Linked DNA regions of Homo sapiens: region 1 is linked to region 2. The links come from fine-mapping of genetic effects on gene expression. A gene starts in region 2. The other region holds a variant in brackets. All regions are shown on one strand. Distances are from middle to middle.

Evidence for each region.
Region 1: its variant is fine-mapped to the expression of LINC00477 in testis (GTEx, PIP above 0.99).

What each region holds. Positions count from the first base shown.
Region 1 is chr12:24,547,303-24,550,222 of GRCh38, forward strand. It overlaps a transcript of SOX5 not described here. Among named protein-coding and RNA genes, the nearest start is that of LINC00477, 35 kb to the right of the region's middle. The variant T/C (reference allele first, on the strand shown) is at 1,556.
Region 2 is chr12:24,582,809-24,585,728 of GRCh38, forward strand. LINC00477 (long intergenic non-protein coding RNA 477) reads right to left here and starts at 1,360. Exons shown (of 4, transcript NR_029451.2): 1 at 148-1,360. It also overlaps the pseudogene KNOP1P1.

The DNA of each region.
Region 1 (2,920 bases), 36 kb before region 2:
TGCCTCAGCCTCCCGAGTAGCTGGGACTACAGGCGCCCGCCACCGCGCCCGGCTAATTTTTTGTATTTTTAGTAGAGACGGGGTTTCACCTTGTTAGCCAGGATGGTCTCGATCTCCTGACCTCATGATCCACCCGCCTCGGCCTCCCAAAGTGCTGGGATTACAGGCGTGAGCCACCGCGCCCGGCCTATCTAACATTTTTTTAAACAAGGAAAACAAGGAATAAACATTTTACTTAGAAACACAGAATTGAAAGCAGTAGAAATGGAGTGGGTATAGTTGTCAATAGGACAAAAATGCTATTTTATTATATAGCCTTGGGTTTTATATTATGTGCATACATTATTTTAATGGTATCTAATTGATTAATAAAATACTCAGCTCAGGCATAAGTTGTCTTAGAAAACCTTCTCCAACCTCTCTTCGGTGCTCTCAAAATACTCTATCTGGGTTTATTTCTCTATCACTATACTTATCCCAATAACAAATAACCAGTTTCTGTTACTAGCTCCCCTATCAACTTGAAGTTCTCACAGACAAGTATCAAAATTTATTTATACAGTGTTCGTATCCCCTGGCAGAAATGAGACTTAAATTCAAATCTGAATTCAACAAATATTCACTGAGTTACAAGTAGAGAAAAGTAGTAATAAGACACAGGGTTCTGACTTCAAAGAATAAAGTTTATAACCATAAACTGCTATTGTATGCTGAGATTCATTATGTGCCGGAGATTTTTTTAAGTACCTTGCATTCATTCTATCATTAATTCCTCATAATGGCTTCATAAAGTAAATGTAATTATACCCATTCTGCAGATGAGGAATCAGACTCAGAGGGCTCAAGTAAATAACCCAGCTAGAAGGGAAAATCCAAAATAGCAGTGTTAATATTGAGCTACAGCATCGATGTCCCTTGACACAAACTCACAATATCTCTCAGGAGATAAGACATGCTCACAACATGATTACAATATGCTACAATAGATGCTGAAAGCCATAAAGATAGTTACAGATATAAGTGTCATAAGATCAGAGTGAGAGATATTCAGCTAGTATATTTGGTGAGAATGCTGTGAAAGAGTAAAATGTAATTTGGAAATTAAGGGATGGGCAGGATTTTAGAATATCTGTACGAGGGAGAAGCGTTGTACAAAAGGAAGACATAAAGAGGTGAAGGCAAGTATGTATATGTAGACACGAGGCACTACATGTTCTGTGTCAAATTTCTCCCCACCAGCAGAGTCCCCAGGAACTAGAAGTATGGATTTAAGCACCTACTTTTTAAAGCTGTGAAACATGGAAACACTGGGAGATGACCAGAGGGAGTATCCCAATAGGTTAGTGGAATGGGGATGGAGGGTGGTACAAAGCATCTGAAACAGCATGTTTGTTTCTGAAATCCTTCCTCTTGCCTTCCTCTCTAACACTACTGCTATAGTCCAAGCCACCATGTTTCTCTTGTGTGAATCATTTCAATAGCCTCCTTTCTAGCTCACCCAAATCCGTTCATTCCTGCCTCTCTTAAATGTGATCTACAGGCTGTAGGCACAAAT[T/C]TTATTGTCCTGAGAAACCTCAATGGGTTCTTCATCACCGTTATTATGAAGACTCAACTCTGTAACATAGCTGAAAAAGCTTAATGATCTGATCCCAATCTCTCTCTACAACCTCATCTCCATCTATTTCCCTTCCACTCTGCTTCAGCCATGCTGCCCTTCTAATTCTAAGAACACACTCTTTTCCCTCCCTCTTTGGAAACCTTACACATGCTATTCCTTTCACCTTGAAAGATTTTTTTCTCCTGTCCTCATTACCTCATTAGCCATCTTTAAAATGTGACATTTTCATGTAAGCATCCTCTAACTGCTCCTCCCTCAAATACATCAGAAACTTCTCTCATATGCTGTATAATCTTCTGTGAAATACAGTTCCACAATTTGCAATCATAAACGCTGATAATTATTTGATTAATGTTGATCTTCCCTAATAGACTTTAATTGCTTGTGTGCAAAGTGTGTGCCTGTTCCACACACCACTGAATCTCTAGCAGTTAACATGGTGTCTGGCTCATAGTAGGCACTCCAGAAATATTTATTGATTACTGAATGAATGAAGAAACAAAACAAAAAGAGAAAGCAAAAATACAGAGCAAAGTGGATTGGGAGCCAAGGAAAGTCAATTGACAAGGAGGTTTAAAGCAGATAGAAAGAGCAATCCTGGAAGAAATCCATGAGTCAGACAGGGCCAGGTGTCAGAAGTGGCTTTTGTGCACTGGCATGGCTTCTGTATGAGCATTCTGAGAAGAGTTAATAGGGCTGATGTGTTGCAGATAGTTTGGGAGTCATCTGAAAATCTCTGTTCAGCTTGAACCAGATCACAAGCAAATTATTCTTGAAAGGAAGGTCTCAAACATGAGCCTGAAAAGATAGTTGGAGACATTGAAGAAGCTCTTAGAAACCAGACTTAAGAATCTTAGTCGCATCCATGTGTGGTACCCAGGCACTCTGAATGTTGGAGAAATATTTCTAAATATTAACAGCATGTCAGGAGGATTGGCCTGATAGTGGTAAATAGAGCAGAGTCGAGGGAAAGATACTAGTTTGGGGAACTTGCAATGATTCAGGGTGAGAGGGGTGAATATAGAAGAAAGGGGAAAATGCAAGCATCATTTTGAGGGATGACTTAACAGGACTAAAAATATATTTTTCTATGTTACAATGAGCAAGAGCTCAGACTTCAGAATCAGTCCACTCTGGGTTCAAGTTTCAGCTATGCCGTTTGCTAGCTATGCTACTTTGAGCAAGCTCAGTTTCCTTGGCTGTATAATGGGACAGCATCTGTAACTATGTTAGAGTTATTAGGAAAATTCAATAAAAATAAACTGCTTAGTACAATGTCTAGCAACAATAACATCAATCAAC
Region 2 (2,920 bases):
TTGACTGGAATTCTTAACAATAACATAAACAGTCTATTAACACATATTTTGTATTAAATATATTATATATTGGATTCTTACAATAAGGTAAACTAAAGAAAAGAAAATATTATTAAGAAAATCTTAAGGAAGAAAAGATATATTTACCAATCATTAGATGGAAGTGGATCATCGTAAAGGTCGTCATCCTCATCATCTTCATGTTGAGTAGGCCAAGGAGGAGGAGGAAAATAAGGTATCAGTCTTGCTGTCTCAGGAGTGGCAGAAGTGGAAGAAAATTTGTGTGTAAGAGAAGCCACGCGTGCAACCCGAAAGTGGACTTCCGGGTCACGGCGGAGCCGGCTCTCACGTGGAGGCGGGGAAGTTTGGCCCACCGGAAAGTAGACCTGGGCCCTGGGATCCCAGAGAAGAAAAAGAAGAAGAAAGTGGTCAAAGAACCAGGGACTCAATACTCAATTTTAAACAATGATGATTACTTTGCCCATGTTTCTCCTATAAAAGCCACAGCCCCCTCTAAGAGTGTGGTCCACGGGCAGGCACCTGAGATGCCTCTAGTGAAGAAAAAGAAGAAAGAGAAGGGTGTCAGCACCCTTTGCGAGGGGCACGTAGAACCTGAGACCACGCTGCGTGCCAGACGGACAGAGAAGTCATCCAGCCCAAGGAACCAGGTGCTTGGCCATTTGGAGTTCCTCAGTGGGCAGAAGAAAAGGAAGTCATCTCTGGCCATCTCCCATGCCTCTGGGGTGAAAATCTCCCCAGACCCCAGACAGGGTGAGGAGGAAACCAGAGTTGGCAAGAAGCTTAAAAAACTTAAGAAGGAAAAAAAGGGGGCCCAGGACCCCACAGCTTTCTCAGTCCAGGACCCTTGGTTCTGCGAGGTCGGGGATGCTGTGGACACTTGCTCAGTGGGGAAGGAGGGTGAGGAACAGGTAGCCTTGGGGCAGAAGCGGAAGCACAAGAGCCCCAGGGAACACGGTGGGAAGGCGAAGAAGAAAAAAAAATCCACCAGGAGGGAGACGCCCTCCCAAGCCACTCCAAGCCCTCCAGGTCCATGGAGAGCTGCCCTAGGAAACGAAGTAAAAAGAAGCCAGTCAAAGTGGAGGCTCCGGAATACATCCCCATAGGAGATGGCCCTAAAACCCCCGCGAAGAAAAAGATGAAGTCCAAGAAGAAGGTAAAGCAGCCAGTCATTGAGGAGCCGGCTCTGCAAAGGAAGAAAAAGAAAAGGAAAGAGAGTGGGGTAGCAGGAGACCCTTGAAAGGAGGAAACAGACACGGACTTGGAGGTGGTGTTGGAAAAGAAAGGCAACATGGACTAGGCGCACATAGACCAGGGGCGAAAGGCCTTGCAAGAAGAGACTGATCGCCAGTCAGGCAAAACGGAAGCTTCTGAAACCAGGAAGTGGACGGGAAGCCAGTTTGGCCAGTGGGATACTGCTGGTTTTGAGAACGAGGAACAGAAACTGAAATTTCTCAAACTTACGGGTGGCTTCAAAAACTTGTCCCCTTCGATTAGCCCCCACCCCCACCCCCACCCTCCCGCCCCACCCAGCCCGATTGCAAGGTCCAACGTGGCCCTCAGTAAGAAGGTGGCCGACAGTCTGCAGCAGAGCCTGCAGCGGGAATATGGCCTGGCCATGAGCTGAAAGTACAGCCGCGGAGCCGGCCTCGGCTTCTCCACCGCCCCGAACAAGATCTTTTATATTGACAGGAATGCTTCCAAGTCAGTCAAGCTGGAAGATTAAACTCTAAAGTTTCGTCTCCCCAAAACTGCCACAATTATCCCATTTATGCTGGAGGTTGCAAATTATTTTGTGTGAAAAGTCAGATCTTGGTAATGACCTTGAACAGTAGGATATAAATAACTCCCATAAGCTTAGCGTTCCAATAATGGAACACTAGGCATAAATGGGTTATTCAATTGTGAAGATGAATGCCATCTGACAGTTGGCTCACATTGAACACCTGTGGAGATTAAGGACAAGGACAACTATCTTGATGGGCTTGGACAAACTGGGGCGGGGCAGCTCATGTTTCCGGAGCCAGGAGAACAAGTGAGTGGCTAAAACCTCCTGTTTTCTGTTAAACATTCCGTCCCTGTCTGAGATATCAATATGTACAGATAACCTTTGTTGAGTGTTTACCAGGTGCTAGGCACATACTAGTGTTTTCCTTAATGTATTTAATCTTCATAATTATGAAATGGGTGCTATTATTATCCCCATCTTATAGATGAGGCAACTGAAGTTCAGGGATAAAGTAATAAAATTGCCTGGGGTCACCCAAACACTAAAAAAAAAAAAAAAGAGAAGCCACGCAGTTCAAACCTGTATTGTTCAAATGTCAACTGTGTATCAATAATTCCTTAAATGTGAATCGTCTAAATACACCAATAAAAGACACTATTGTCATAGTGGATAATGACAAGATACAACTATATGTTATCTACAAGAAACCCACTTTAAACTTAAACACTCAGGTTAAGAGTAAAGGGATAGAAAAAGATATATCATGCTAAAAGTAATCAAAAGAAAGCTGGAGTAGCTAAATGAATTTCAGACAAAGCCAACTACAGAATGAGCAACATTATCAGGAATAAAAAGGGGTACCACATAAGGATAAAGGGAACAATTCTCCAAGAAGACAACAATCGTAAACATGGAAGCATTACCAAGAGTGTCAAAATACATGAAAGAAGACTAATAAAAATGAAAAGAGAACTAGACAAATCCATTGTTAGAGGCGGGACTTCACCATCCCTGTGTCAATGTTATGGGTGGAGACTTCACCATCCCTTTGATAGAGCCAGTGGGCAAAAAAATCAAGGCTATAGATGACCTGAGCAGTATTATCAATCACCTTGATCTAATGACATCTATAGATTACTCCATTCAACAGCAGAATATACATTCATCTCAAGC